Linked DNA regions of Homo sapiens. The protein of the gene in region 2 purifies or fractionates together with the protein of the main gene of each other region. This does not show direct contact. Each region holds a gene or a part of one and is shown on either strand. Other genes may lie near its edges.

The links. Proteins that work in one complex are often made in the same cells at the same time.
Region 1: the proteins of HIBCH (region 2) and UMPS fractionate together in Homo sapiens (co-fractionation; one large-scale study listed by BioGRID). This does not show direct contact.

Annotation. Positions count from the first base shown.
Region 1 is NC_000003.12:124,736,952-124,740,470, forward strand, and holds part of UMPS (uridine 5'-monophosphate synthase), read left to right. Parts: intron 1-616; coding exon 617-1,288; exon of another isoform or gene 1,289-1,492; intron 1,493-3,072; coding exon 3,073-3,248; intron 3,249-3,519. UniProt on the Homo sapiens protein: Bifunctional enzyme catalyzing the last two steps of de novo pyrimidine biosynthesis, orotate phosphoribosyltransferase (OPRT), which converts orotate to orotidine-5'-monophosphate (OMP), and orotidine-5'-monophosphate decarboxylase (ODC), the terminal enzymatic reaction that decarboxylates OMP to uridine monophosphate (UMP).
Region 2 is NC_000002.12:190,290,997-190,296,422, reverse strand, and holds part of HIBCH (3-hydroxyisobutyryl-CoA hydrolase, mitochondrial isoform 1 precursor), read left to right. Parts: intron 1-1,792; coding exon 1,793-1,877; intron 1,878-5,426. UniProt on the Homo sapiens protein: Hydrolyzes 3-hydroxyisobutyryl-CoA (HIBYL-CoA), a saline catabolite. Has high activity toward isobutyryl-CoA. Could be an isobutyryl-CoA dehydrogenase that functions in valine catabolism. Also hydrolyzes 3-hydroxypropanoyl-CoA.

The DNA of each region.
Region 1 (3,519 bases), on a different chromosome or scaffold from region 2:
TTTTCCTTCTGAATTTGTGTCTTCAAAAAGTCAATTATTTGGCTGATCTTGAATAGTGAACTTAAAATACTTTGATGGAAAAAGGAATTATTTCATTCATGATACTGGATTATTCTGTTTCATAACTTTCCTTGATCTAGGTGATCTTGCTGTAAGAAACTCTGTATTTAGGCTGGACGTGGTGGCTCACACCTATAATCCTAGCATTTTGGGAGGCTGAGGCGGGAGGATCACTTGAGCTCAGGAGTTCAAGACCAGCCTAGACAACATAGTGAGACCTCATCTCTATGATAAAACAGATTTTTTTAAAGTAAAAAAAAAACCTCTCTATTTGAAAATTTGATCATAAAACACATTAAGCAGTGTTTATAATGTGAAATAATTTACTTGATTTACTATAAATATACTGTATGTGTAACTGGCAAGTTTGGTATACAGAGTTGGCTTTATACATAAATATACTGTATGTGCAACTAGCAAGTTTGGTATACAGAATTGGTATACACATATACTGTATGTGTAACTGGCAAGTTTTGTATACAGAGTGTGTGTACGTATATACGCACATATACATACATATTTAAATTTGGAATCAGCAAAATTTTTTCTTTTCTAGGAACTAAGCGTCTTGTAGAAGGAACTATTAATCCAGGAGAAACCTGTTTAATCATTGAAGATGTTGTCACCAGTGGATCTAGTGTTTTGGAAACTGTTGAGGTTCTTCAGAAGGAGGGCTTGAAGGTCACTGATGCCATAGTGCTGTTGGACAGAGAGCAGGGAGGCAAGGACAAGTTGCAGGCGCACGGGATCCGCCTCCACTCAGTGTGTACATTGTCCAAAATGCTGGAGATTCTCGAGCAGCAGAAAAAAGTTGATGCTGAGACAGTTGGGAGAGTGAAGAGGTTTATTCAGGAGAATGTCTTTGTGGCAGCGAATCATAATGGTTCTCCCCTTTCTATAAAGGAAGCACCCAAAGAACTCAGCTTCGGTGCACGTGCAGAGCTGCCCAGGATCCACCCAGTTGCATCGAAGCTTCTCAGGCTTATGCAAAAGAAGGAGACCAATCTGTGTCTATCTGCTGATGTTTCACTGGCCAGAGAGCTGTTGCAGCTAGCAGATGCTTTAGGACCTAGTATCTGCATGCTGAAGACTCATGTAGATATTTTGAATGATTTTACTCTGGATGTGATGAAGGAGTTGATAACTCTGGCAAAATGCCATGAGTTCTTGATATTTGAAGACCGGAAGTTTGCAGATATAGGAAACACAGTGAAAAAGCAGTATGAAGGTAAGTGTATTATTCAGGAATCTGCAAGAATCAGAAATCCAGCTTAAACTGAAGAAGAAAAAGGAAATGCTCATGTCATTGAAAGTCCATTCATAGAGCAGGCTGTCAAGCGTGGTTGGATCCAGGAGCTCAAGTGATATCTTCATGACTTGCTTTCTCTCCATCTCTCAGCTCTGCTTTCTTCTCTGTTGACTTCTTTCTCAGGTAGGCATACTCTGCATGCTCACCCCAAACCAATCACTCTAGCTTGGGATGTAGAATACCTTCATTAACTAGCCTGGGCAATTTGCTCTGCAACTGTGAGGTTGTTAACTCTGTATGACCTTCTTGAAATAAGAACCAGTCAGGGATAATTTCCTTAAAGAAAATGGATGTGCTAGTACCAGAAGAAGGGTATGTGCCTGGGCAAGCAAATTTGACAGATGTCCTTGGCAGAATATGATGTTTTGAATGAAAATTCCACATAAAGGAAACAATGAAAAAGAAATATAAAATGGTAAGATTTATTTGTAGCAGAAAAAGTTCTATTGATAAACATTATTTAAAGATTTTTCTTTTATCAAATAGGGACTCAAAGTAGTGCATGTGTTGGTTGAGAAAAATGCTTAGTTCTACTGCCTATTCTATGCAAATTTCTGTCTATGTTTTTACAACTGTGTGATCAGACTATATTTAATGCATTTTTCACTTAACCTGGTAACAGATATTTGGTTGTGTCATATAACATTTTTTGTAGGCATCTTTGAGGTAACTTTTCTTTAATGTATGCATGTTCATAAGCTATTTCTTTAAAATAGATTTGTCTTTAAGTGACTTCTTCATGTGCTTAAGATGTCCTGCCCTCATCACATTGCCTAGCTTACTTTAGCTGATTGACTGACATAAGAGTTTTATACAAACTTTCTTCAGCTCTGCATAGAGTTTTTTCGAAAATCAGGCTTGTTACTGTCCGCTTTTAAAAGGAATATAGTTGCCTATTGAAATTAGATAGCTAAGGAGATCTAAGGAACACGTAGAAATATTGAGCGATAGTAAAGCTGCTGAGAGACCCCTGCAGAGTGAAAACTTGTCATCTTCAAGAAGAATTTTATTTTTATTATTATTTTTTTTGAGATGGGGTCTTGCTCTGTCGCCCAGGCTGGAGTGCAGTGGTGCAATCTTGACTCACTGCAACCTCCACCTCCTGGGCTCAAGTGATCCTCCCACCTCAGCCTCCCAAGTAGCTGGGACCACAGGCATGCGCCACCACACCTAGCTAATTTTTTTGTATTTTTGGTAGAGATGGAGTTTTGCCATGTTGCCCAGGCTGGTCTCGAACTCCTAAACTCAAGCAATCTGCCCACCTCAGCCTCCCAAAGTACTGGGATTACAAGCATGAGCCACCATGCCCAGCTTCAAGAGGAATTTTTAAATGTTATCCTTGACATCAATAAATGTTTATCTTCACTGGAGTCCCTTTCTAATAGCATGAGCTTTATTTGTGGTCATGAGCTTCAGCCTTCAAGGAAAAAGAGTCCTGTTAGTGTTCCAGATAAGCCAAGTGCAGACCTTGAAAGTTTTTTCTCATTGTGATCTCTCACCCAGCTACTTACCTGAATAACAGATACAGTTTTCACAGATGGAACCATGGGTCTGCTGATAATCACTAAAGTTCCTGAAGAGTTTTGATTCTCTCATTAACATGTTACTGGGAGATTATTTCATATTGTAGTTGGTTGGTTGGACAAGACGTTAGAGGTTTTGTTTGAAAATCAGCAAATATCTTTTTTCCCCCTTCTTCTTAGGAGGTATCTTTAAAATAGCTTCCTGGGCAGATCTAGTAAATGCTCACGTGGTGCCAGGCTCAGGAGTTGTGAAAGGCCTGCAAGAAGTGGGCCTGCCTTTGCATCGGGGGTGCCTCCTTATTGCGGAAATGAGCTCCACCGGCTCCCTGGCCACTGGGGACTACACTAGAGCAGCGGTAAGTGGTGGGGGGACTGGGTGAGAGGGGGCAGGGGCTGCTATGCTGCATGCTGCAAGAAGATATCTCCTAATCTGGCGTTTCTGGAACCTCTGCCAAAAAAAAAATCCAGCTCTTGTTAGTGTGACAGTATATTAATACTAGTTGGATAGAATTCCTTGATAGTTAATAGCATTTTATATCATGTAGTGGACACTTCAGGAATTTGAATTATACTCCAAGAGAAACTTTGAGACCCAGATAGTTAGTCAAACAAACACTTACTAAATCT
Region 2 (5,426 bases):
GAGACGGAGGAGTCTCACTCTGTCGCCCAGGCTGGAGTGCAGTGGCACCATCTCGGCTCACTGCAAGCTCCACCTCCCGGGTTCATGCCATTCTCCTGCTTCAGCCTCCTGAGTAGCTGGGACTACAGGTGCCCGCCACCACACCCGGCTAATTTTTTGTATTTTTAGTAGAGACGGGGTTTCACCGTGTTAGCCAGGATGGTCTTGATCTCCTGACTTTGTGATCTATCTGCCTCGGCCTCCCAAAGTGCTGGGATTACAGGCGTGAGCCACCGCACCCGGCCAGACAGCTGCTTTTAAACTGCCTGCTTTTTCTCAGAGAAGGCCGTAAACTTTCCTAAGTGAGCAGCATGGAATAGTAGAAAAACAGGACTTAAAGTCAGACTGTCTGGTTTGAAACGTGGATTTCTATTTATTAACAGTGTAGGCTGGGAAAGTTAATCTCTCCATACCTCAAATCTCCTCAGTTCTGAAATGGGGATGATGATATGTAAAGATTAAGTGAATAGTATATATAAGTACCTAATACAGTCTGCCATGTAGATGTTTAACAAATACTAGTTTTCCCCTGGCTACCAATTCCTTAATTCTTCTTTTGATGAGTCTGTCTTCCATTCTTATGTTTCTGTTTGAGATACCATTATAATATGTCCCAAAATGTGATACATAGAAATAAGCCAAATGTTGCAAATCAAAGTTGGACCAGAGTGGAAGAAATTAGAAATGTTCATGTTAGAATAACATCTCTATTAATGTAATTAATGTAGTCCGGTATTGCATGAACCTTTTGGACAATCACGTCTTTCCAGCTACATCTTCCTTGTGCGTTACATATTTATTCTCTAGTACAGGTTGAACATCCTTAATTCAAAATGCTATAAAATTCAAAAACTCTTTAAGCATCAACATGATGCCACAAGTGGAAAATTCCACACCTGGCCTCATGATTGCTCGCAGTCAAAATACAAGTGCACAACACACTGTTTATTCAGGGTCCCTATGGGAAAAATTAATTACTTTCAGGCTATGTGTATAAGGTGGATATGAAACATAAAGGAATTCCCAATCCCCAGGATATCTCATATTGTATATGCAAATATTCTAAAATCTAAAAAAGTCTGAAACACTTTTGGTCCCAAGCATTTCAGATAAGGGATACTCAACCTGTATAGATTGATAGAACCCCTGTTAAGTTTTCTGTCTGTGGGTAACTAATTTTTCATTTCGTCCATTGTTCTGGACTTTCACATTTTCATCGGCTCTTGATTCTTTCATCCTACTTATTTATTAGCTGTCTTTACCAATCCCAAAGGACTTGGATTTTTTATATTATAAGTGGTTTCACTATGTTACTTACGTATTAAGAGTAAGAGAGCCCTGTATCAGCACAGTAGAAAGGTTATTGCTATATTTATCAGCAGTCTTTGGGTTGATTTGTTCTCCAAATTTATACGTTTATGTAACATATTATTATTATGCCCTTATTTGTTCATCTTGGTATCAAAGTTATGGCAAAGATTTCAGGTGCCATCTTGAAATTTGGATCACACAGTGTACTCATCTAGCAACATTTTTGAAATAGCCTCTACTTTATCTGGGAAAAGCATATGAAGTTCATTTGATAAGGAATGGGATGAGATTCGTTCTTCTGGATATCCCTTACAGAAGAATATGTACTGTCACAAACACATATGTATATGAATATATGATTGAATATATGTGCATATGCATATAACTTTAATGAGTTTGTGTTTATAATATGCTTATACCATCTTCTGTTACATTTGAATAGAAGTGGGAACAAGATCCTGAAACTTTCCTGATCATTATAAAGGGAGCAGGAGGAAAGGCTTTCTGTGCCGGGGGTGATATCAGAGGTAAAGACTTTTCCCTTTCACCTGAGTGCTCTTTCCCCCTACTAGAACTGATCAAGTATTGTCAAATTTTTGTAATAATTTATAATTTGCTTTACTTTTTAGAACTTTTTATTATAAAGTTAATACATTCTTAGGAAAAAGAAAAATTTAAAGACTTACTTTCTGCAGTTAGTATTAGCAAATGAGAATAGCAGATTTTTTTTTCTCACTACACAAATACCCATTTGAAATTTAAATATGTTGTCTCTCTCCCTGAATCATCACAAACAAAATGTCCAGTTAGGGTATATGGGTCCACTTTATATTTTAGAAGAGCTGATATTAAGCAGTTCTGTTGGTCTTATAACCTGACTATCTGGCCATGTTGACTTGCCATTCTTCAAATATGACATGCTCTCACATATTTCCATAACTTTTCCTATGCTTCCCACTATTCAAGATCCCAAAGCAACCATCTTCTATGTACTTATTTATAGCATTTATCCTGTTGCTATATATATATATATATATATATATATATATACACACAAAATATATATTACAAAATATATATTGTAAGTATATTTTACGTGTTTAAACATGCTGAGATAAAAAGAGAAACTCTCTTTATTTTTCATAATTGTTCAGGTCAGTCTGTCTATACACATTTAAATGTTAAAGACAAAAGAGAAGAAATGTCTGTTCTCAGCATCAGTGTCATGTATTTATTATAATCACTATAATTGTCCATATTATATGTACAGTATATTGAAAACTTTTTACATTTTGTATCTTGTTTCTTGTGGATTTGGTAGGGTTCAGGGATGGTTTTTTTCTTTGTGTTTTAATTTTATATGTTTGTTTGTTTGTTGTATTAAGACAACAGTCTTTGGGCTTGTTCACCAAACTTACGTAAACCATTACCTTAGGAACAGGAAAAAAGCTGGATTCAGGACATAATTTCAAATACTTATTAATGAATTTTAAAATTGCAGTTTAATGAAAACTTTGATTACTTAAACTGATCTGTTAACTGAATTGTTTTTGAATCTGTTGTTTTGCCTACAACATGCGTTTTTTTATTATTTTATTTATTTATTTATTTTTTTTTTTGAGACGGAGTTTCGCTCTTGTTGCGCAGGCTGGAGTGCAGTCACGTGATCTCTGCTCGCTGCAACCTCCACCTCCCAGGTTCAAACAATTCTCCTGCCTCAGCTTCCCGAGTAGCTGAGATTACAGGTGCCTGCCAACATGCCCTGCTAATTTTTTGTATTTTTAGTAGAGACAGGGTTTCACCATGTTGGCCAGGCTGGTCTTGAACTCCTGATCTCAGGCGATCCGCCTGCCTCGGCCTCCCAACAACATGCATATTTTTAAAATACTGTTTTTCAGCCTTGAATTAGCCTTTCGTCTGGCCTGTGATCGTCAGTTTACAGGTGGGCAGAGCTTTATGTATTGAGTTTATTAGCTTTTTCTGACTGAGCTATTTCTGCATATAGGCCTAATTTTATATTGATGTTTGGAAATAACAGCTACAAGTTGTAGAATTATTGTAGTTTACACATATAAAGCAGTGGATTCAAGTCCAGGAAATGTAATTTCTTGAAAGATTATAGTCCAAGACAATAAGTGGACACTCAGAAAATTTTCAAAAAATGATTGTGAAGGACATTTAATTTTAATTTAGATGGAACTAATTGATTAGAATAAAAATTAGATCAGAAAAAGATTTGAAGGAAATTTGAGAAGGTTTTTGAGGTAAAAGAGCTTCATTCCAAAGGCGATAAAACTTACATTCCTTTCCTTTTAGAATTGGTAAGCAGTGATAAGAGCTGAATAAAAGATGATAAACAAAGATAGTCATTTTTTGTTTGTTTGTTTGTTTGTTTAGGTATAAGTGAAACCTCAGAATGATAAAAGTAGGTGTCAGATCTTTCTTTTAAAAACCAGTAAAAGGACTGGGTGCAGAGGCTAACGCCTGTAATCTCAGCACTTTGGGAGGCCGAGGTGGGAGGATTGCCTGAGCTCAAGAGTTCGAGACCAGCCTGGGCAATGTGGTGAAACCCCGTCTCTACTAAAATACAAAAAAGAAAAATTAGCTGGGCATGGCGGCATGCGCCTATAGTCCCAGCTACTTGGGAGGCTGAGGCAGGAGAATTGCTTGAACCTGGGAGGTGGAGGTTGCAGTGAGCTGAGATCATGCCACCGCACTCCAGCCTGGTGACAAGGCAAGACTCCGTTTCAAAAACAAACACCCCAAAAAACCAGGAAAAGAAGTCGACATATGGAACATTTTGAAGGAAGAGATATCAGAATTCTAGAGTTAGGAGGCCCGAGCCGGCAGATCACCTGAGGTTGGGAGTTCGAGACCGGCCTGGCCAATATAGTGAAACCCCTCTCTACTAAAAATACAAAAATTAGCCAGGCATGGTGGCACATGCCTGTAATCCCAACTACTTGGGAGGCTGAGGCAGGAGAATCACTTCAACCTGGGAGGTGGAGGTTGCAGTGAGCCAAGATTGTGCCACTGTACTCCAGCCTGGGCAACAAAGCGAGATTCTGTCTCAAAACAAACAAAAAACAAACAAGAGAATTCTAGAGTTAGTGTAAGAATTGGTAGACAACATTTTGTATGTAATACTTTCCCATAAAAGAGGAAACATATCTATGAAATGTTTAGTTTGTGTTTTAATAGATAAATCTCATAGGACTTAAAGACAAGAAAGGCATATGAGTTGCAGTATATAGAAGAGGAAACTTTGATAGCAGTCTTGAGATTGACTGGAGGAGGAATATGGTAGGAGATGTGAACTCTGGGTAATAGAAGATTGCAACAGAAGTGAAACCATTTGATAGTGTTCACTATTCAGTAGATATTTACTGAGCATTTGTTTTTTAAGCCAGGCAGTGGTATGCTGTAGCAATGTCTTTGAGAATTTACATTTCTATCGATGTTAATAAATAAGAATGTCAGTATATTATTTACCTGTCTAGCCTCACCTTTTCCCTTTGCCCTTTAGTCTTTTAAAGCTGTTTGATTCTTGATTTTACTCTTCTTTCTTGACTTTGAGGCTTTGTAGGGTACTGCTTCCCCTAGTCAGAATTTTTCTTTCTGTCATTTTCTAGGAAATTCCTATTTACCTTTTCCAACTTGGCTTAGGGTTACCTCTTCTAGGAAGCCTTCTTTTAATTAATTACACATCTCCTGCTCCCATTCTGACAGCACCCCAATCCTTACAGGACAAAGAATATGTTTTAGTATCAGTCTAAACTCCAGGACAGCCATCTTGTGTTGCTGTCTTTATTATCTGCAACACCTAAAACATTACTTGGTATGTAGTAGGTGCTCAATAAATGTTTTATGGGGGAAATGAATGTGGCAGAAATATTTAAGGACATGGGATACGTTGTAGCACTATACACACACGTATAATACATTTTGTATTAAGACATATTACCAAAGGAAATGTATGTCTAGCAAATGTTAATTTAAGTGCTAGAGAAAATAATCAAAAGAAAATGTAGCTTGTTGCAATATATTATTATTTTTTTTAAGGAGACAGGGTGTCA